Homo sapiens: one gene and its partners. The protein of the gene in region 3 interacts with the protein of the main gene of each other region in a pairwise test. Each region holds a gene or a part of one and is shown on either strand. Other genes may lie near its edges.

Region 1 (7,765 bases), on a different chromosome or scaffold from region 3:
CTCCCAGCTGAGATCACGTCTTGGTATCCCCAGGTGAGGGCTGGGCCCCGTCTGTGCTCACCCCATGCTGGAATCAGGGTCCAGCTCCTTGAAGCTCTCAGCCATCGTGGTGGACAGAGCCATGAGGGGAAGCTTCTTCTGCAGGGAGGGTGGGGCCGGCGATGAGTGTCCGTGCCTCCCTCCACCCTGCCTGAGCACCAGGCCAGCCCCTTGGGGCAGGGGAGGAGGGAACCCAGGAGGGCCACAGTCCCAGATGAGAGTGGAAACAAGATGACAAGGCGTGGTGGGGGTGACATTTCCCTGAGAGCATGGATGGAGCCCCTCTCCATCTGGCGTGCCCTTTCCTCTTCCCAGAAGCCACTTGACTGGGCAGGAAGGAATGACCAAGTCCTACTGCAGACTGGGAAACTAAGATGCAGGGAGGGCAGGGAGCTTGCCCCAGGTCACACAGGTGGAGGGAGAATGGGAGCGGGAGCTCTTTCCCCTGTCCCAGGGTATATATGGCTGACCTAGCCACCGCTGAGTTCAAACGCTCTATGGCTCCCAATTTCCTTGCCTTGGCCACACTGAATTGTCAACTGATTCCAAAACATGGCCCCACACTCCCACCCCATCTGGAGTTACGGGGAATGCCTGCTCTGGGATCAGAGACCAGGGTTCAAACCTCAGTTCTGCCACTTACTAGCTATGTGACCTTGGACAAGTGACTTTATCTCTGAGCCTCCAGTTCCTCATGTGTAAAGCAATGCCTGCCCCTAGGGTTGTGCCAGTGTTCCATGAGACAGTGCACTCATATGTTAGTAACAAGCTGGCGGTTATCAGCCAATAAACGCTGCCTCTTGATTAATAAACGTGTATCCCTCAAAAGCCAGCTCAATTGCTACCTCCTTCAGGAAACCCTCTGAGGCCGCCCCATTGACAGCCTGCTCTTGCGCACTGATTGGACAGAGAAGTTCAGGTGCTGTCAGAAGCCTGGCCTTGGCTTATGGGAACTGGTGCACAGGGAAGTGGGGTAAAGGTGATGGGGAAGGTATAGGGCCTCTTGAGTGCAGTGCCAGAGGGGCCTTGGAACAGAGCAGTCTCCATGCCCTTGGTGCCAGACACTCAGACTGGCAAGGAAACCCCAGCCCCGACCTTGCTTCCCCATTGGATGGAAGTCTCCTGCTCAGGCCCCTCCTTCCCGGGACCCCCCACTCACCACCCGCTTGTCCATGTCTGCCCCGCTCTGGCCCTGCAGACAGGCCTGCAGCCGCTTGTGGATGTTGTGGGCTGCCCGCTTGGCCGGCTCCAGCCGCTGTTCTACCTGGGAAGGAGGTATGGAGGTTAAGGATCAAGAGAGGCTGTCTCCCCCTGAGCAGGAAACTTTCTCCTGTCCCCTGGGGACCCCATGGCCAACAGCTTGAGGAATGACTCAACCCAGGCCCCTACCTGGCGTCCCCGCCCCGGCCCTCTGCTCCGAGACAGCCTGCACAGGCCTGCCTTCCCACCTGCCCGGCCCAGGCACGTACCTGCAGCAGGTCCTCACCCAGGAACTCAGCGGTCTCCGGGGTGCTGCGGGGAGTGGTGGGGGGGGGGGGGAGAGTGCTTCTGCTGAGCCTGCCTGGGTTAGAACGCCCCCTACTTCCCTTCCCCGCAGCAGGGCACCTGGACCCCAGTGCTTCCACTGTCCCTCCCAGCTGAGGCCTGCCCTGGGTGGCCCAGTTGCTTCATCCCAGTCGGAGCACATTCCATGGGGGTGGGAATAGGATACATGGGTTTTTCCTCCTCCACCCAGGGCTGTGTCCTGAGAGAGGGCGGACAGATGAAACTAAAGGGGAGGCTGAGAGACCCACCCGGGGCCCAGCTTTGGGACACAGAAGCCTCTTTTCTGCCCACTCCCAAATCCTCAGCCCACCCCGGGATGAGGAGTATTAGCTGGCCCCAAGAACGGGAAGTGCAGGAGCTCAGACTCCTAGGCACAGTCACACAGCACTCTGGACTACAGCTGTGGGCAGGGGTGCACAGGCCCTTGGCCCCCACCTGGGGACACATGGGGGATGCCAAGGCCCACTGCAAGGTGGTCTGACTGTCCAGGCTATGTAGGCATCTGTGCCAGTGTGAGACTAGAACCAGGTCTCTGGACACCCAGTCCCCTCCCTGGACCCAGAGAATGGGGAACTCCTGAGGCTGGGGGAAGAGGAGCAGAGAAGACAGGCTCTGAGAGGCTCCCCAAACTTCCGGCCTCCGTGCCACCGGCTCAGAGGCTGGGGGTGGGAGCTGGGAGACCTGGGGATATTTCCACCTGAGTCCAGGAAAAGCAGAAACGAGACAGAAGCAGGAGGCCCCTGGGCTGGGGGGAGGGGGAGGGGGAGGGACGCTGCAGGCCAGGGGCAGGCCCCTCCTCCCACCAGGCCAGGACCCATCTCCTCCCCTCGCCCCAGGTCTGTGGCCCTAATCGACCCTCCTCCCTCCCCGGCCCAGCAAGCAGAGGTGGTGAACTGTCCCATTGTCCAGAGGGGACAAGTGAGGTCAGGAGGACCATCCACTTAGAGACTCGTGGAGGCAGAGAAGTCCCAGCGTCCTAGGGCAGAGAGCATTCTCCCGCCTGAAGCCCCCTCCAATCCGGTAAGGGGGGGCATCCCTTCCCCCAAAGGCCACCCTTGCTCCTCCAGCTCTGCCCGAGAGACGGGGGCGGCGTTCAGAGAGGAGGAAGAGAGAGCAGGAGTCTGGCCGCTCAGAGGGTGGCTGCCCAGCTGTCCCCAGCCTCCCCCACCCCCGTCTCCCCCGACCCTTTTACGACCCCTCAAGTCCTGCCGGGGTAAGAGTGGGGCTGGAAGCGGGTGACACTCACCGTCCCAAGCTGCCCGTCTGGGCCAGCTGCCGCATGCGGTGCAGCTGCCTCTTCATCATCTTGGGGGCGAGCTGGGGGCTGCGGGGTCACGGCGGGGGTCGCGGGCCCGGGGAGCCCCCGGTCCAGCCTGCCTCTCCTGCGGCGCGGCTCTTGCCCCGGATGGGTGGGCGGCGCTCTCGCTTCCTGGGCCGCCGCGCGGCTCTTGCTGGCGGCCGGCTCTCTCCTCCCCCGCTCACGACTCCGCCCCCGGCCCCCAGGTCACTCCTCTCTCCAAGTTGGTTTCCTCGCTCTTCCCCGGCTTCCGGGCCCCCGGGCGACCCCCGGCCGGGCCCCCGCTGCTGTGTGTCCGCCGGCCGCGGCCGTCCACAGGTTGTGCCCGGCTCCTCCTCCCCGCAGCGCCCCGCCCAGCCCCGGTGGCGGGAAGCAGGTAAGCCCATTCCTGCCCCTGCGCCCGCAACCCGCCCCAGGCGGGGTGCCTGCCCCACCCGCAGCCTGCAGACCCGAAGTATAAATAACCTTTGCATCCCTCGCAAAGAGGAAAGGGTACCAAGCGAAAGAGGGGTAGGCCTTTCTGACCTGTCCTGGCCTCTCTGGGCCTGCCGCGGATACTGCCTTGCACTCTCTTCCGCAGAGGACCTCTGGCCCCCTGGAACTAAACCCCCCACCACTGGATGACTGGCTGGGAGCTTTGGCTTCCTGGGGCCACGGGCTGCTGTGTGGCCGTGGACAAGCCCCTGGAACTCCGGACTCGCTGTTTCTAATGGTCTGATGGGCCAGCTGTCCTGGGCCTGCCCATTCTGCAGAGTGGACAAGACACCCCTGCCAGCTCCCTTTAAGGGAGGTGCGTGCCACCCCTCAGCCACCAGGAACCCTCCCAGAGCGGTTCGCGACACCCTGTTCTCCACATCTCCTGGCAGTTTGCTCCATCTGTGAAGCCCGTCTCCTCTCATTCCTCCTGGCAAACAGCCTCAGTCCCCCTTCCTTCTTGTAGGGCAATGATGTAGGTGCTGCTCTGACTGCCCCCAAACTCAGTAGTTCTCCTCTTTGGCCCTCCACTCAACACAGAGTTAGGCATACAGTAAGTGCTCCATAACTGCTGGTTTTACAAGATGTGAGCGCCTTTAGGAAACAGTAGGCTCTCCTTACCCTGCACCCCTGTGGCATCAGGAGCCGCAGGCGTGGGGAAGAGGGGAGGGTGTGCCCCAGAGTCCTGCCACACCCTCTGCACTTTGCTTTGTTAGTTTCAGTTTAGTTTGAGACTATTTGAGCCACTACTGTGTGCCGGTGCAGACTGTGTGCCGGTGCAGACTGGGCGCCTCTCAGAGGCAGGACCTTGGCCCCACACATCTCCATACTCCCAGCACCTAGCCCAGGGCCTGGCACACTCACTGGCTGCTTCTCTCCTCCCTAATGAGGCAGGACTCATTGGGGGTGGGAGGAGCTGAGAAGGGAACCCAACAGCTGCCTGCTATGGCCAGAGCCTCCCAGATGGGAGCCCACCTGAGTGTGGAATCCTGGTGGGAAGTTGGGAGGCTCCAAGATCAAAGCTCAGGCCAGGATGAGATGTCAGGCAAGGTTCCCTCCCCCATCTCCCTTTTCCCAACAGGAAGGCTGCTGGCCAGTGACTATGGGTGGCATGGCAAGGGAACCTCAGGTGCCATCCTTCCTGTCCCTCGGGAAGTCTCTGGACTATGTGGTGCCCCTGCTCTGTTCCAGCCAAGCCTCCAGCCCAGACCACACCGGGCCTGGGCTTGTCTGGTTCTGTAGCTGGTCTGAAAGTCCTTGAAGGCAAGGTTTGGCTTACACCTCTGTCTCTCCTAGATTTGCCCAGTCCTGAGCCCCAGCTCCGGCCTGGTGAGGGGTCAGTACACGTGGGTTGTAGCCGCAGCTGTGGTGGAAACTACCTGAGCCATATTATCAGTCTAACTGAGCTCTTGCCCCGCGCTCCTGCCCTGGTCTCCAGACTCCCCTCCAGCCAGACCTAAGGGTCCTGGGCAGGAGAGACACCCTGGGCCTTTGAGTCGGATTCGGGTGGGGCTGCTGTGCCTCCTAGCTGGGTGATGGGTAGATTTTAGGCCCTCCCTTGTCACACCTGGATGTTGAATCATAGAAGGATGGACTCCCCAAAGGTTGGGTTAGGGTTATAGGCTGTTCCTTAGAAGGAATTGTAATCAGAGACTTACGGACTCAGAAGTTTTGATCAGTGGGTGTTGGGATCATGGCCTTTCTAAACTGCAGACACAGAAGGGGTACCTCAGAGCTCCCCAGCCAACCCCTCGTGGGGCCCTTCCCCAATCCAGGGGCCTGTTGGCTTGGGTCATTCTCTACCAGGCTGGTCTTAGCTGGCTCCTGCTAAAGCCTCTGGGACCCGGCAGTGTGCCTGTCACAGTGGCTCAGGCAGCAGGAACAGAGAGAGCTTAAGGGTGTGGAGGAGGCTAGCTGGCCAGGCTGTGGCTGTCATTAGCTGGGTAACCTTAAGTGGGACACTTCACGTCTCTGAACCTCAGCATCCTCCTCAGTAAATTGGAAATAATAGTACCTACCTCACAGAAGCGTTAGGTGAATTAATAGATGCAAGATGCTTATAAAGTGCCTTGCGTTGTTTCTTGTTACCATCATTATTCAGCTTGCCAAGTCAGGAATGGAAAGACCCCTTACCCCCATTCCTGCCCCAACGACCCCTGTGTGTGTCTAGCTGCCTTAGGACAATGGGACTTTTTGTTGTGCTATAGCATATCCTCCAGTGAGGGTGGTATCACTGTCCCCATTTTACAGGTGAATAGCCCAAGGCCCCTGGCCTAAGGTCCCCAGCTGGAAAAGTGGTAGAGGCCAAGTTAGGAAACAGATCTGACAGTCTCCTAAGCCCACGTGGGCTCTCCTGCTGTGCCAGACCCAGACAGCCTTGCCTGGGAGCTCCAGAAATGCTGGCCCTTGGCTCTGCCTTAACCCCTGTGGTTGCTTTGAGGGCCTGGCAGCCTCTGTGCAGATTTGTCTGTGAAAGCCTGGGACAGTCTGGGTAGCATGTGCTAGTAAGGCTTGAGCAGGATGTGGGCAGGGAGGTCAGCAGCTGAGTGGTGGTGGTAACGGGGGTCGGAAGCAGGGGCTGCAGGAGCAGAAACATCCCATTTTAGACACTTTGACAAATTGCCTGTTTGTAGTATCCCTCGGTGCTGCCCTCTGTGTGGACTTCCACCCAGAGCAGCTAGGGGCATAGTGAGATCTCTGGGGCTCTAAAAACTCCCTCACCTCCCTCCCCAAGCCCAAAGGACTTTCCAGGAAATCCTGGGGTGGCCCTAAGGCTGAGAACTCCATTTTAATCCTGATAGCCCTGGAGGAGTGTGTACCCTGAGCCCAGCCCCAGAGGACAGCCCGACAGAGGCTGGGGGGAGGACTTGGGAGGTATGGGGCAATGTGCCATCCTGGTAGACACCTCAAGACTGCTGGCCCAGACTCAGCCCATAATGTGTGACTTCTCTGAGCCTCACTTCCCATTTCACAGGGCATTTCAGAGGCTTAAGATGGGAGGCTATAGGCATCAGGTCCGGGGGCTCCTCTTGCCTGCCTTGCTGGGCTGGTGCCCTGGTTGCAAGGCCCAGAGAGACTGGGGGAGGGGGTATGTCGAGAGACCAGGCAGACCAGGCACAGTAGCTCACCACAACACTTTGGGAGGCTGAGGCAGGTGGATCGCTTGAGCTCAGGAGTTCCAGACCAGCCTGGGCAACCTGGCGAAACTCTATACAAAAAATAAAAATATTAGCCGGGCATGGTGGCACGCGCCTGTGGTCCCAGCTGCTCAGGAGGCTAAGAGGGTAGGATTGCCTGCGCCGAGGAGGTCAGGGCTGCAGGGAGCTGTGTTTACAACACTGCCCTCCAGCCTGGGTGAGAGACCTTACCTCAAACAAACAAACAAAAAAACCAAAAAACTGACTGGGGGCCGGGTGTGGTGGCTCACGCCTGTAATCTCAGCACTTTGGGAGGCCAAGGCAGGTGGATCACCTTAGGTGGGAGTTAGCCTGACCAACATGGAGAAACCCCGTCTCTACTAAAAATACAAACTTAGCAGGATGTGGTGGCGCAGGCCTGTAATCCCAGCTACTCGGGAGGCCGAGGCAGGAGAATCGCTTGAACTCGGGAGGCAGAGGTTGCGGTGAGCCGAGATCGTGCCATTGCACTCCAGCCTGGGCAACAAGAGCGAAACTCCGTAAAAACAACAACAACAAAAAACCGACTAGGCAGGAGCAGGCTCCCAGGCCCTTGCCACTTCTCCTGGCTGCCATAAACAGACGAACAGTGTGATGCGGTTGCTGAAAACCAAAATTAACTGGTGCCTCGGCCAAATCAACAGAAATGGAAGTGGGGCTTCGAGATCTGGGAAGTCCCACTGGTCTTGGCATGGCACTGGGGGTCACCCTTCAAGAGACAGAGCACACGCCTCCCCAGTGCACTGCATCCCAGCCCCTGAGACTGCAGAGCGCAGTGGCCCGGACCTCTGTGCAGCAACACGGTATTTGGGGAAGGACTCCTCCAGGGAGTGGAGGCCCAGGGTCCTTTCCTCTGGTTAGAACCCACCCCAGACTCTCAGACAGATGCAGGGCTTCTGTGGTACCTTATGTCTTTGCTCTCAGGGTGCCACACTGGCTCCCAAGTCCTTGCCAGCTTGTGAACTCTTAGGACAGGGGCTGGCCCAGGGGCTGCTCAGGAAACACTGGCATGACTGACAGGATGGGTGGGTTAAGGACAAGGCAAGGGACAAGGTCCAAAGGCTGAAGGGACCCCACCTTCCCGTCCCCGGAATATCCTGGGTCACTCCAAAGCTGACAGCCTGGCTCCTTTGTCCAAGGACTCCTCAGAGGGACCTTATAGCTCATTGAGTCCCTCTCCCCTTTTCCAGAAAGGAAAGCATCTTCCTCAAAATCACACAGCAAGCCAGTGACC
Region 2 (7,023 bases), on a different chromosome or scaffold from region 3:
CATGTATATGTAAGTGGCTGCTTCTCCTTTGCAGTTAGCTGGGGACGCCCTCTACTAAAAACCACAACTGTTTCTGTAGCCAAGATCAGCACAGGGAGATTCCAACAGGACAGCCACATCCTCCTTCCCAAAGACCCCATCCGGAACACGGTGGGTCCAGAGGCCCTGCCCACAGCCCCTAACCCTGTATCTATATGACAGGAGGTGGGCAATTTGCAAGCCAGCCTCACACTCAGGCCTCATTTGTTGAAGGCCTGGGAGGGCCCGAGGCCAGAGTGATCCTTGGATCTGGCATGGCCTTCAGGCCAGAGCTGGGCCCTGTGTCAATTCCGTGGGTGGCCGACACTTTTCTCTTGCACTTGGGTGGACTATGGACTTTTCCTGTAACTGTTCTGAGGCTTCCACTCACCTCCATGACCTCAGATTGCAAAGGGCATATCTAAAACACAACGGTGCCTGCTGGTGATGCATTTGAAATACACACAGGAAACACAACTAGGAATGGGCCAATAAAGCTCCCTTAATTCCGCCCTGCTGGAAGACTTCACTTGCTGTTTAAATCATGCCAGGAAATAAACTATTGAATGGGTTGTTTTTGTTAGAGACCCATCCTAGAGAGACTGGAAACCAGGCCCTGGGGAAAAGGAAGGAGGAAGGCTGGTGGAATGCTGAGTGATGGCTCCCACCTTTGCCAGAGAGTCGCCGGGGCTGTGTGCCGATGCAGATGCTCCGGCTGTCCTCGTCATCCTCGGGGGGCCGGCTCAGGTCATCCCAGGCACACTTGGCACTGACACCACTCAGGTTGGAGCCATCTGTCTCGATGCCTTTGTCAACTCTCTCCTGCTTGAAAAGAACCAAAGAGCCAGAGTTCTTTCAGAGAACTGGTGACCCAAGGTGACCACCCTTTCAGCCACTGCTCTTACAGTATTTACTGAGCCCTTGTGGTGCTGAGCATGGGACAAATGCTGGAGAGCAGGATCTCTGACCTTGTTCTGCCCTGGTTACCAATGCATGATGGTCTCTGCCAGCTCCTGGACTCCTCCAGGGGAACCAGGGATTAGGGGAAGCCAGGAGGAATGCAAATCCCAAGGGAAACATCTCTTCTACCATCAGCCTTCCAGCACAATGGCCTCTACCTGTTTCAGAGCCCCAAACCTGTCCCCGCCACGCTGGCTGGTGGGGCTGATGTGGCCATGAGAGAGCCTACTTCTCTGAGGAGAGGTGTGATCCTTCCTCTCCTCCCGATCTTCAGGCAGAACCTCCCAGTCACTGCTATAGAAAACAGGGTGGAAGCCTGCCACAGGCAACAGGCCACACCTGCAGTTTCCCCTTCTAACAGCTAGAGGGTGTGGTCACACAGGGAAGAGCCACTGGAGAACAAAGGCTGGACTTCCCTAGATGCATTGGTTCCCTTGTTTAGCAAAGGACTCTGGATGGAGATTCCTTCCCATTTCTTAGACTGAAATGGGGGCCTAGAGTGCAGTGACTATCTGCAGACACCCTTCTCTCCCCATCGAGACCCTGCCTTTGTGCAGGCCTTGGTACTGCTGAGTACAAACACTCTCCAAATGGCTTCAAGGAAGAGTTGTACTCAAAACATCCCTGGATTTTCTGGTAAAACACAGTTCATTGATGCTGGACCTTGAATTAAAAGTCATCTGGAAGGCTCTATGTCCATGTGGGCCAAATCAAGCTTGTGACTGAGCATCTCAACAATAATCTGTGCTTCCCGGCTCCACAGGTACCACACTGGCCTGCTGATCAGCCCAGAAGCCCCATGTGGGAGAAGTACAGGTACTGTCCTTATTTCCTGGGACCAGTCAGCAAGTGGCTCTGCCCCAGACGCCTCCTTCCCATCAGTCATCTCCTCCTTTCAAGTGCTAATGCTGGCCTGGGCAAAGCTGTGGGTTCCGAGCAGGAAGAGGCTAAGCAGGGAAGCGCTCTGTGTACTCTGGGCAGGGAGCATGTATACCCTGGTGTGCTCAGGGGATAGTCTGAGCTTTTTCCTCTGCACTGGCTGCCCTGGGGTCCCTCACTTAGGTAAAGAGTTGCAGACAGACAATTCTTGGCTCAACTTGTCTGGGCTATTTACTTTATAAGTAAAAAGAAAAAGTTAAGACCCAGAAGGCGAGGGACTTATTTGGGCACACAGCTGGTTAGTGTAGAGCTTGAATCACAGGAATATATGCCAGCTCTAAAGAGACTGATAGCAAGCAGGCCCCAGAAAGGCACAGTGAATACAGAGGAGTTCACACTTGGTGCACAGAGCCACCAGGAAAGAAAGCTGTCCTTTGTTCCTGTGGGACCCTGGCTTGCTTTCAAAGACCACTAGGTGCTCCGGGTCCTGTGGGCTGCTCTCAGGGGATCCTGCAGACTAGGAAGAACAGCCCTTGGCATGGAAGGACAGCTGTTTACCCTACTAGTGCAAAGGACCAGGTTCTTTCTTAGTACTTGGCACTTATGACAGGGGCCAAACAACGGCCCACAGTGCCCCATGCTGGATCCCAGTGTGGCTACAGAACAAGGGCTTAGGGAAAGATAGCCTTCCTGGTTCCTGGTTCTTGCATATGCAGAAGATACAAGGAAACCAAGTTTAAAGCAGAGAGAACAGAGGATCCTGGCAGCAGTTTGAAATGTTCAGTGTTAAAGGCACTAGGAAAACAGAGGAGCATCATCTGTGAATGAAGAGGATTTATGCCCAAGAACTCACAAGTCTACAGTGAAGAACTCAGGGGCTGCTGGCTACATGTCCATCTGCCACCTTTCTCTTGCTCTAACACATGGAACTCCCGGCAACTGCCTGTGGCCTACCAGATATTTTACAGAAGCATGGCAGGTTTAGAGATGGCAATGACCTGCATTTGGTCAGGGGAGTAGAAGGAGCCAGACACCAGGCAGGTAACATTATTAGCTGTCTGTGGCTCCTGCTTCAAGAGAAGCCCATAAGAAAGGCAGTTATGGGCCAGGCGCACTAGCTCAAACCTGTAATCCCAGCACTTTGGGAGGCCGAGGCGGGCGGATCATCTGAGGTCAAGAGTTCGAGACCAGCCTGGCCAACATGGTGAAACCCTGTCTCTACTAAAAATACAAAAAATTATCTGGGCGTGGTGGTGGGCGCCTGTAATCTCAGCTACTCGGGAGGCTGAGGCAGGAGAACTGCTTGACCCTGGGAGGCGGAGGCTGCAGTAAGCCGAGATTGTGCCACTGCACTCCAGGCTGGGTGAGAAGAGCGAAACTCCGTCTCAAAAAAAGAAAAGGCAGTTACGTTCTTGTGGCTTTCAAACTTTACCTGCATGACAAAGGAATGCTTCTAAAACAGCAAAGATGACACTGAAACAATGTCCAGGTGGGCCACAGGGAGTGGGCAGCTGCCAGCCTGTGTGTCTAAGGTGCCAATCTTTCCAGGCTAGGAGCTCTGCATCTGACTGTCCAAGATAGAAAATGTGGCGAAAATGGGGATAGGACCATTAGACCAATCAGCCCTCACTCCTGCAGCTGAGCCATGGAGTCAGTATCACCTACACTACTGTCTGGTACAGGGCGGTGGTGGCCGTGGTGGCTCCCTAAAAGAAAGTCTGGGAGGCAGGAGAATGAATACTGGGCAAGCAAGCAATATCCACTACACTTATCTTTTATTGCTGGCAATCTAATTTTTTAAGCCAATATATAATTTACATACAATAAAAATATCCTTTTAAAATGCCAAAATACATATGTCTGAGGACTAGCTTTCCTGGGCTGAAACCTCTGCTCCCTACGTGCTCTGCAGAATTCAGGGGACAAGTTCCAAGTGATGCCATATTTCTACTCACTCACACATAAAGGTCCTCTGTTTTCCCAGGATGAAAGCCAGTGTTATTTGGAAGAGGCCTAGGCACAGGGTGCTAGAAAGGTTTTCCTCACTCAAGACATACTTGCAGGTGTGGATCGATCTCAAATATGGTCTCTCCCCTCCGCATGTCAGTTATCAGCCAGGGGCCGCCAGCACTGTGGACAAGGAAAGGGGATACAATGGTAACTGAGGGTCTGGGGCTGATGGGCTGGGCCTACAGCCTGCCCTGTTTGCTGCCCCAGGCCTAGGACACAGGGGAATAGTTCGTGGTCAGGGACTGTCAGGGAGTGAGTCGTCAGGAAGCCCTGATGTGAAAAACCAGGGTCTGAAATAACAACGCAAGAGGGAGCCCCACATGGAGGGTAGTGGAGGGACTCCCACCCCCAGGCCCAGGGAGCCGCGCTCCCACCTTGCATGGGTACTCACATAGGCACTGTCCGCAGCAGCTCCAGGATGCCCTGCCCGTTCCACTGCTGGGCTGAGTGTAGCTCTTCAGTGCAGACACCAACGATCTGAGGCCCAGGATAGAAAGCCCATTGTGTGTTAATGGCCACCCCCCACCCCAAGAAGGTCAGCTACCCAGGCTCTCTGAGTCACCTCCAGTTGGGAGACCACAGGCAGGATCTGTGCTCAGGAGCTGGTGCAGCCAAGATTGGATGATTCCCTTAGGAGGGAGTGGCTGCCTGGCTGGGAAATGGCTGGGTCCACATGTGGGCCCTGAGGCCTGACCCTTGCCCTTGCTGTGTCTGGATGACACCAAGTCTAGCTCTTAGCTACAAAGGAGAAAACCAAGGCCTGAGCAACTCAAGATGTGTCCTCAGGCCATGTCTCTGGAAGTAGGGGAGGTTCAGGGAGCCATTCCTACCCAGTCTGGTATCATGGGGAATGTAAACAAGAGACTTTGAGACCTATCAGGCTTGGAACCACCACCAATAGGTCATAGCAGCCTGCAGAGAAACTCCTCCCTTCCTTATTAGGGGATAGGCCTTTGTGTAAATATCAAGGGAATCAGTGGAACCTTCACATAGACTTCGTGACCAAAAACAAGCACTGGTCAAAGCTGGGCAGGTTCCCACAGCTTCTGGCAAAGAGCAAGGACGACCCAGAGCTGGCTTCCCGCTGGAAAGTCCTGTTCCTGAGACTGGGTCTTCACTGTTCAAAGAATACCCGCCACCCCATTACTCCCTCTCAGCTACAGCCATTCTCTCCCAACCAAATGCCCCCTTCCCTTTCTCCCCTCTCCCATCTCAGCAGGTTAAATCAGACCATCTGAATCTACCTGACAAACCATCAGAGGAAACAGAAATCAGGACGAGGCCAAAGGAAACCTCCCACTCCCTTCACTCCCCCTCCTCAAGCCTCCTTGTCCTCCCAGGACCCTTCCCACAGGAAGGCTTGAGCCAGCGTCCAACCTGTGCCTCACCTGGAGGAAGGTAACTACCCCAAAGGGTGTCTGCACGGGCTGCATCTGTGGGTCCTCTGTCAGCAGCATGTGCTGAATTCTTGACTCACTGTTATCCAAAGGGCTGTGCCAGGACACATGGTCCCCACTGCAGAAGGTGTTCTCTGTGGGAGAGATACAAGGATCCTCATTGTTCAAGGCCCCAGATCCAGGCCTGGAATCTGGGCTGGGATCTCACTAGCCCAGGCTGGGAGGCTTCCCAGCCTCTTAGGGTAGCCCCTGTGAAGGAAGAGAAGCATTCACTCCGGATGGAAGCAAAGAGTTTGTGGATATTTCCAAAAACCTAAATTGTTCCTGCTTGCCAGTTCTGTCAGACTTGAAAAGGACAGGCTATTAGTGTGAAAGCTCCTTCGGCCTGGGAAACCAGAAAGACTTCTGGCATCTGCTTCGCTTCCCCAATATCCCGACTCATGGTGGGAGGCAGGAGCCATGACTGGATCTGCCAAGAAAGAATAAGGTGCTTTTCTGTAGGGCCACCTGGCCAGAAGTCCACAGAGAGGCAACAGGGCAATGAAAGCCCTTCACCTTGGAGAAACAGACCGAAATTCCTATGTTGCTGAAATGGCACTCAGAAGGAAACATCGAACCTTGGAGAGCCTTTGAAATCTATCACCATTTTCCCACAGGCAGATGTAGGAATTCCTGAGGAACACTAGGCTTCAAGTAAATGGAGGTCTAAATAGTGCCTCCCACACCGTGGCAGAGACAACTCATGAGGATCCTCAGGCCATGTCTCTGAGATGTTCAGATTCTGCCAAGGGTAGCTGTTGCCATGAGGGCATAGCCTCCTCACACACAGGCTCACCACTGCACTTCAAGCAGGTACGTTACTTTAGAGAGAGTTTTGTTTAAGGCCACATAACCACAAGGGAAAACAACCCCACAGGGTACTAAGTCTCTCACCAGCTCTGACTCTCATCGTGGGTGCCAAGGTGCTCTATATGTCCAGCCTATGCATCCACAGGCTCCCTTCCATGTTTTGTCCTTACACAAATGGAAGCACACTATTCTGCAGATTTCACTTAATTATATATCTTAGACAGCACCTTTTTTTTTTTAATATGGAACACTTCACGAATTTGCATGTCATCCTTGCGCAGGGGCCATACTAATCTTCTCTGTATCGTTCCAATTTTAGTATATGTGCTGCTGAAGTGAGCACGAGATCACCTTTTTTTTTTTTTTTTGAGATGGAGTCTCGCTCTGTTGCCAGGCTGCAGTGCAGTGGCGCGATCTCTGCTCACTGCAACCTCCGCCTCCTGGGTTCAAGCGATTCTCCTGCCTCAGCCTCCTGAGTAGCTGGGATTACTGGCATGTGCCACCACACCTGGCTAATTTTTTGTATTTTTAGTAGAGGTGGGATTTCACGGTGTTAGCCAGGATGGCCTCGATCTCCTGACCTCGTGATCCGCCCTCCTCGGCCTCCCAAAGTGCGGGGATTACAAGTATGAGCCACAGCACCCAGCAGAGATCACTGCTTCTCAGCATATGGAGAGCTATCTCATTCTTTAAATGGCTGTTCCAGAGTTCACTATGGTCTGTCATTCACGATCTCGGAATCTCAACAGTTGAGGTATCTTTCTTCACTTTTTATCAATATTTAAGGTAAGGCAGAACACACACATACACACACAGACACACCTTTTCCATCCAAGATACGGCTTCAGTTATTGGTCCTAACCTCAATAGTGTTCATTCAGGCAGGAGAAGGAAGACTGCTTCATCTGAG
Region 3 (7,569 bases):
TCCATGAAAATAGGAGCCATGTTCGTCTTGCACACTCTTCCATCCATAGTGCCCAGCACTAACAGACTACTTGACAATATTAAAGAAATCATGAAATCATAACTTCACAAACTCTTGTTGTCATCAGGCCATCTGGGGTGATCTAAATGACTAGGAACAGGACCATAGGGTAGGACATGATATGGAGGGACAGGACCACCCAACCCTGGCCCCCAGCCCAAACTACTCTGGCGTGGAAATGCTTTATTCCTAGGATGAGAGTAGAGGGAAAAGACGGAGGGGTTCCCAGGTGGTGTAAGTGCTTCCTAAGGACTGCCCTCTGGGGTCTTGGGGTATTGCAGGCTTCTCACACCCCACCACCCATGGGGCCAACCGCTCGGCCAGCCACACTGTCCTCAGAGTGTTCCCAGCAAGGTCAGCAGAGACCCAGCAGGTGGAGGAAATAATGGGAGAAAAGAGTTGAAGGTGGGAGTGGGGAATGGGTTCACAATGCATTTGTTCAGGGATCTTTACTCATTCTGTGATGAAGAGAAGGTGACAGTTCACTGGCTCCCTGGGGGTCTAGGAGACTTGGGCTTGGCTGAAGAGGGACAGACACTCAGGGCAGGGCTCCATGCCATCAGCTTATCAGACAGCCACCTTTCTCCTTGAAGGGATTCTTGTCCTCAGGGATGCCTTTGAGAAAAGGATCGTTTCCTGCTTGGGCCTCCACGTACTCCTTGATTTCCTTTCCCGCTTTGGAAATCTGCGAGAACACAAAAAATGTTTTAGGTCCTTGTTACTGTCTCTGGGTCCATGATTTGGTCAGTGCCAGAAAAACAGGCTTCTGGGCAGGGCAGAGACAGGGGCCAAAGAGGAGAAAGACACAGAGGACAGACAGGTGTTCGGGGGTGTGAGTTCCTTGATCTGACCCACAACACTGACCCTGACCTTCATGGGCTGCTTGGCCAGAGCCAGCCCAGACACAGGGCTGGACACGCTGAGCTCTCCAAGGCCCTGAAGCTCTCTCCTGTGCTCAGGGAGGCTGGCACCTTCACAGGGTCAACCCCAGCCTTTCTCTGCATCCTACCCCATCCCAGAGGTACCTCCTGCTGCTTCTGCAGCCCTGGAACAGTCCCACCACCCTTTCTGGTCACTTCCTCCTTCCCGGGGCTCATCAGGAACAGGAAGGGAAGAGCAGGGACGGGGCGAGGAGGCTCACCGGAATTCTTGTGTTTTTCACTTCTTTCTTCAGCTGCTCCACCTCCATCTTCAACAGGTCCTTCTCGCTGAGATCCTGGGCCATCCTGCCCTAGACAGACCTGATCCTGGAAAGGATTCAGCAGCCAGGATCATAAATCTCATCAGCTCTTCCAGCTCCCTCCACACCTCGACTTCTAGCATCTTCCCTGCCATATCCCTCAGTTCAGGCCCCTCATCATTCAACAGATATTCACTCCATCCTTGCATGCCCTGCTTCTTCAAGAGTCTGGGCTCAGGAGGGGAGGAAGCTCCCAGTCTGATGGGGGAGGCACCATTTTTGCCTTTGGATTGTCTGTCTATGGAGGAAATTTGGATTGTCTGTCTATAGAGGCATCTGTCTGTCTGTCTACAGAGGAAACAGAGAAGAAAGAAAAAGGAGTTTCTTTCAGAGAGGAAGATCTGGGAAGCAACGTTATTGTTTCATATAGTGACTCAGAGTTTTCCTCTTTCTCTCCAGGTCCAGCAAGGGAGAGTATACAATAATGGTCAAGAGAAGGGGGTCTTGGCTGGGCGCGGTGGCTCACCCCTATAATCCCAGCACTTTGGGAGGCCAAAGTGGGAGGATCGCTTGAGCCCAGGAGTTCAAGATCAGCCTGGCCAACATGGCGAAACCTCGTCTCTACAAAAGATAGAAAAATTAGCCGGGGTGATGGTGAGTGCCTATAATCCCAGCTACTCGGGAGGCTGAGATATGAGAATTGCTTGAACCTGGGAGGCGAAGGTTGCAGTGAGCTGAGATCATGCCACTGCACTCCAGCCTGGGTAACAGAGAACAACTGTTTCAAAAAATAAAAAAAGATCCCAGGCACTGTGGCTCATGCCTGTAATCCCAGCACTTTGGGAGGCTGAGACAGGCAGATCACCTGAGGTTGAGGGTTCGAGACTAGCCTCGCCAACATGGTGAAACCCCATCTCTACTAAAAATACAAAAATTAGGCAGGCGTGGTGGCGGGCACCTGTAATCCCAGCTACTCAGCGGGCTGAGGCAGGAGAATCACTTGAACCCAGAAGACGGAGGTTGCAGTGAGCCGAGATCACACCACTGCACTCCAGCTTAGGCGACAAGAGTGAGACTCCATCTCAAAAAAAAAAAAAAGAGAGAGAGAGAGACAAGGGGGTCTGGAGCTTACCAGACTCCAACTCTGATCTGCTGCTTCCTTACTGCTTTCTCAGTGTGGCCTTAGGGAAGTCACTCAACCTCTTTGAGTATTAGTTTCCCCAGCTGCAAATGGGTATTAAAAAAACCTACCACATGCAATTATTGTGGGTACTAAGAAAATAATGTCTATAAAATATTATAATATACTACCTGGCACATAATGAACACTTAATACACTTATTATTATCACTAATAATGCTATTGTTATTATTATCACTGCAGGGTTATCAGGAAGGCCTTCCTGGTGCCTAGCCCCAGTGATACTAAGAGTAGATCCCAGCCCAGTGCAACCTCAGCCCCTCTCACCTGCCACAGAAGAGCACACTCTCCAAGTCACTTGTCCTGGACTCAGGTAAGATAGTGTTTGAGCCTCCTAGTTCTTCATCAGCTGAAAATCTTCAGATAAAGCAGATGGCCTGGAAACCAAAATCTCTGATGCCTAAGCTGATCATAGGCTCAAAGTTCTAAGCCCATCACCCGCTTGAGCCTTCAAGCCCTCACTACAGCAGAGCAGAGAGACAGACATTCTCCCCACAAAAACAAACGCGAAAACAGAAGCCACCTTTTCACCACCTTGCCTTGCGTTAGCCTCACACTTTTGGTGACCTCACTAGCTTAGAGCCCGCAGCGCTTCTATTTCTCCACCTCCACCCTGCAGCCCCACTTACCCCGCTTCGCCTGCTTTCTCCTCCTTCCCTTCCCACCTCTGAGCATGCTCTGAGGCTGTCCTTCCTCCTGAGGCAAGTCCTAGACCGGCCCCTAACCTCCTTAACCAAGATGCTTTGTGTTGCCCATTGGATCCCCACAGTTTCACCTTACGAAGTTCTCCTAGCTCACTCTTCATCCACTCATTCAATAAAAATGTCCTTGCTCACCAAGCTGTGCCACTTAGTACTTGGGGCGTGGCCACCTCTAATGCCTCTGTTCAAGCTTCTTTGCTGCCATGCCTCCCTCTGAGCCCTGAATGTGGGTTCCTGAGCACAGAACCCACATCCTGGTTTTTTTCTTGCTGTCCCCCCAGGACCACCCAAGGGCTATGCCATTTAACAGACATTGAGCTCCTGCTCTGGTTGACACCCATCCAATGACAAGGGACCCGCTGGAGGAGCAAAAGTTAAGGGACCAATATGGTCAATGGGAGGTCCTCTTATTCTCCTGTCTCTAGGATGACAGGCTTGGTGGTGGGAGGGGCAGAGAGGAGGCCCGCCGTCCATCCTAACTTCCGTGCTCCAGGACCCAGTCCAACTCTCAGCTGGGAGCTCTAAGAATTTGAAATCAGAACAGGATCCTGGAGGTTGTCTGGTACAACTGTCCTGTTAATGCGTGAACCACAGCCCATACCTCCTAGGCAGGCTCAGTGCTCTGTCCACCGCTGCTTCCTAAAACCGCAAGTTGATCTGAAATTTGAACCTGGTGCTTCTCAAATCCAAGTCCTTCCTGTTGTCTAATCTGAGTCCCTCACATTACGCTTGGTCAATTTCATCTTGTCCTGCCTTCATCTGCACAGAGCGTGTAGGGCAGATCTTCATCACACACAACCCTTCGCAGGCTTGCTAACACCCCTCTGGCAACCTCTCTGGTCATGTCTTCCCGGTGTCCAACCCTGACCCCTCTTGCTGCCGCATCGGCTGTTTTCTATTTTTGCTGTGCTGCTGCCCCACAGTCCTCTGGTATGACGGATCTCCATATCCTATCCACCCTCCACTCCCCTGTCCCTTGGTGACTCATCCCTGAGCTTCCCAAGGAAGCCCCCACCCTCTGCCCTTTCCTCCCGCCTTCCATGAGTGGAAAATCCACCTCCGCCCCCTATAGCAGGCCAGCCCCCTTCCTCCCCAGTCTCCGACCCCATCCCCCAGCCGACCAGTTTCCTCTCCAGGACCAGGGAGCAATCACAGCTGCCCCGACCTTGGCTTCCTCTGCTGGGTGGGATTGGGGGCTGGGCCCCCAAATGGGCCCCTGGCTTCCCCCTTCCTCTGGGCAGGGGACAGAGAGACACAGGCTCGGGGAGCAGGACTGACTTCCTCTTGTCCCGGAATGAGCATGCCTGCCCTTTGCAAGCAGGTTTGGGTCTCACGCAGAGGAAACCAAAAGCAATAAGAGGGAGGGAAGGCAGAGCAACCAATCAAGGGCAGGGTGAGACTCAAAACGAGCGGGCTCCCTGGGGAGCCAGACAGAGGCTGGGGGTGATGGCGGAGCTACAGCAGCTGCAGGAGTTTGAGATCCCCACTGGCCGGGAGGCTCTGAGGGGCAACCACAGTGCCCTGCTGCGGGTCGCTGACTACTGCGAGGACAACTATGTGCAGGTAGGTAGAGCGGGCGGAAGCCTGACACCCCAGCCCCCGGAGGGGGGACCCTGAGCCCTGCCCCAAGTGGGGCCCTGGGACCCATCCTGACAGTGCTTGTCCTGGGCCTTGGCTGAGAAATCCTCCCATTCCAGGCTTCGGCTTCATCCCAGACCCCAATACTTAACCCTGACCCCATACTACCCAAGCCCCCACTGTGCCCCTTCTGTCTCTCAGAGCCTCAGAGATGCCTGGGACAGACAGTGCGATTCCATCCTGTTCTCAGGTGTCACCTCAGGTTCATCCTTCTGAGTTCCCACGGGTCAATCCAGAGACCCAAAGCCTCCGTCCTCACACAGATGCTGGCGATCATTCTATTTCCAGGCCGGCTCTGGGTGAGGCTTCAGAAGAACTTCCCAAACAGCACAGTGAACCTGAGATGGACAAGGGAAAGGGGCTCTTTCCCTGAGTTTGGGAAAGGGAGAGTGGGGATAAGGCAGAGTAGGCTGGGCTAAAGAGAGGGGATCTCATGCAGAGGCAGGGGGATGGCCCACATAACTGCTGGGAGCAGGCTTCTAGCAACAGATAGGGAGGTGGCATTGTAGAACAGGTTTTAAATTGTGTGGTTGTCCTGGGGCTGAGAACATAGATTCCTGGATTCAGGGAGGAGAGGCAAGGCAACTGAGCCATGATGGAAATCACTTCTGTTATTTCATTAATCTGTACAACTACCTTGTGAGACATGTATTATAATTCCTATTTTACAGATGTGGAAACAGTAGCTCAGGGAGGTGAGGTGACTTGTCTAAGGCCACACAGCTCCAAACAGCAGAGCCAGGCATTCCTTTTTTTTCGCTCTTGTTGTCCAGGCTGGAGTGCAATGGCTCGATCTTGGCTCACTACAACCTCCGCCTTCCGGGTTCAAGAAATTCTCCTGCCTCAGCCTCCTGAGTAGCTGGAATTACAGGCATGCACCACCATGCCCGACTAATTTTATATTTTTAGTAGAGACAGGGTTTCGCCATGTTGGTAAGGCTGGTCTCGAACTCCTGACACCTCAGGTGATCCACCCGCCTTGGCCTCCCAAAGTTCTGGGATTACAGGAGTGAGCCACTGTGCCCAGCCAGCCTTTTTTTTTTTTTGACGGGGTCTCCTCTGTCACCCAGGCTGGAGTGCTGTGGCATGATCATAGCTCACGTAGCTTCACTGAAGCCTTGAACTCCTAGGTTCAAGCAATCCTCCCACCTCAGCCTTCTGAGTAGCTGGGGCTACAGGTGCATGCCACCATGCCTGGCTAATTTTTTAAATTTTTTTGTAAAGACAGGGTCTCCATATGTAGCCCAGGCTGGTCTTGAACTCCTGGCCTCAAGTGATCTGCCCACCTTGGCCTCCCAAAGTGCTGGGATTACAGGCATAAGCCACCACATTTGGGCTTCCCTGAATCCTGATGCCAAGCTCTTTCCTCTCCATCTTTCTGCCTCCCTACACGCTATGTGACTTTACGACAGTTTATTAGCACTCTCTGTCCCCGGTTTCCTCTGCTCCCTGAAGAGCTGCAGACTAACCTTGTTACCCCTTGGGCAAAACTTTATTTTTCTAACCTGTACTAACCAAACTATGAGAACAGGCACAGGGACCTTGTAGCATAGTAAGAATGTTGAAAAAAGAAGTAAATGAGTAACAAGTGCTCATGGGAAATGGCAGATTAAAGACAGTCAGTAATGACAGCAGTTAAAATGCTCTGGACCCTTCTTTTGGGCCAGGCATGTTACCAGCATGGCCTCCCTTCATCCTCATCTGAAGTCCGGTGAGGCGAGTCCCATGCCCACTTCACAGTGAGGAAGCTGAGGTTTGGAAAGGTTAAGTCACTTTCCCAGAAGTCTCCTAGCTAGTGTCAGAGCCTGAATTCAAACGCAGAAATCTGATTCCAGAGCCCACTCCCTATGCCACTAACTGAAAATGCTACTCTGGGTATCATTTCGGTCTGTGTAGATGTTGAGTGACCACCTGCAGATGAGACAGAATGAGGCTTGCAAACCAGCTCATTCTCCTAGCATGGAAAGGCATGTTTCCTCTATGGACAAGGATCCAAGCAGTCCTTTCCATTCCTTCCATAACTTCTGCACACCTCAAAGAGCTTCCACAGGGCTCTCATTTGCACACACAGTGTGCACACACAATTTGGGGTCGCAAAGACCTAAGTCAAATTTCCAGTTCTGCCACCTACCAACTACAGGAACTGTGGCAAGTTTCTCCTCTGATTCTCATGCCTGCCTTCAGTGGTGGCTCCATGGATTCAATATAAAAATGTATCAAAGCATTCAGCCTAGTGCCAGCCCCTTCAGAAGAGCAGGATAAATGGCAGCTCTTACAATGACCATCACTACCATTCATTGGAAGGATGGATAATAAGAATCAGTTCTAGGGAGGAGAAGCTGTCCTTGCAAAAATATGCAGGGCATGAGAAGCCCTGACCCAAGTTGGAATCCTTGGACTCCTGCTTCCTTCGTGCAGAGTACTAACTACTAGAACACACAACTTGTTACCTTTCCTGGCCTTTCTGAGGATCTTTATCTAGGCAAATGCCTAGGAAGGTTCTGGATCTCAGAACTTCTGTTACCTAAGGCCTGATTCCCCTACCCTCCAACCCCACCTGCAGCCCCTCTCTCCCCACACCACCCAGATGCTAGGAAACCCATGGGGAATTAGGGAAGGCAGACCAGGGTCACCTGCAGAGTTCTCAGCCAGGGTTGACTGAGTTTACAGACACGGTAATTTGCATGATGAACAAGCACTCAGCCGCAGAGATGGATCTCAGACACCTGTCCCTGCGGACCTAACTTTGGGCTAAGAGCAAAGCCAGGGGTCGGTAGGTGTTCAGGCTGC

The links. The genes of interacting proteins can lie anywhere in the genome.
Region 1: the proteins of ABI3 (region 3) and SH3BP1 interact in binary tests that used the Homo sapiens proteins (3 or more experiments, as listed by UniProt).
Region 2: the proteins of ABI3 (region 3) and SUFU interact in binary tests that used the Homo sapiens proteins (3 or more experiments, as listed by UniProt).

What each region holds. Positions count from the first base shown.
Region 1 is NC_000022.11:37,634,912-37,642,676, reverse strand, and holds the start of SH3BP1 (SH3 domain-binding protein 1), read right to left. Parts: upstream 3,009-7,765; 5' UTR 2,890-3,008; coding exon 2,831-2,889; intron 1,552-2,830; coding exon 1,509-1,551; intron 1,304-1,508; coding exon 1,199-1,303; intron 846-1,198; exon of another isoform or gene 139-845; coding exon 62-138; exon of another isoform or gene 1-61. UniProt on the Homo sapiens protein: GTPase activating protein (GAP) which specifically converts GTP-bound Rho-type GTPases including RAC1 and CDC42 in their inactive GDP-bound form.
Region 2 is NC_000010.11:102,590,957-102,597,979, reverse strand, and holds part of SUFU (suppressor of fused homolog), read right to left. Parts: intron 5,399-7,023; coding exon 5,256-5,398; intron 4,345-5,255; coding exon 4,259-4,344; intron 3,988-4,258; coding exon 3,915-3,987; intron 844-3,914; coding exon of another isoform or gene 841-843; coding exon 687-840; intron 1-686. UniProt on the Homo sapiens protein: Negative regulator in the hedgehog/smoothened signaling pathway. Down-regulates GLI1-mediated transactivation of target genes. Down-regulates GLI2-mediated transactivation of target genes. Part of a corepressor complex that acts on DNA-bound GLI1.
Region 3 is NC_000017.11:49,206,138-49,213,706, forward strand, and holds the start of ABI3 (ABI gene family member 3), read left to right. Parts: upstream 1-4,569; 5' UTR 4,570-4,587; coding exon 4,588-4,704; intron 4,705-7,569. Other genes in the region: GNGT2 (guanine nucleotide-binding protein G(I)/G(S)/G(O) subunit gamma-T2), read right to left, coding at 620-745, 1,202-1,285. UniProt on the Homo sapiens protein: May inhibit tumor metastasis. In vitro, reduces cell motility.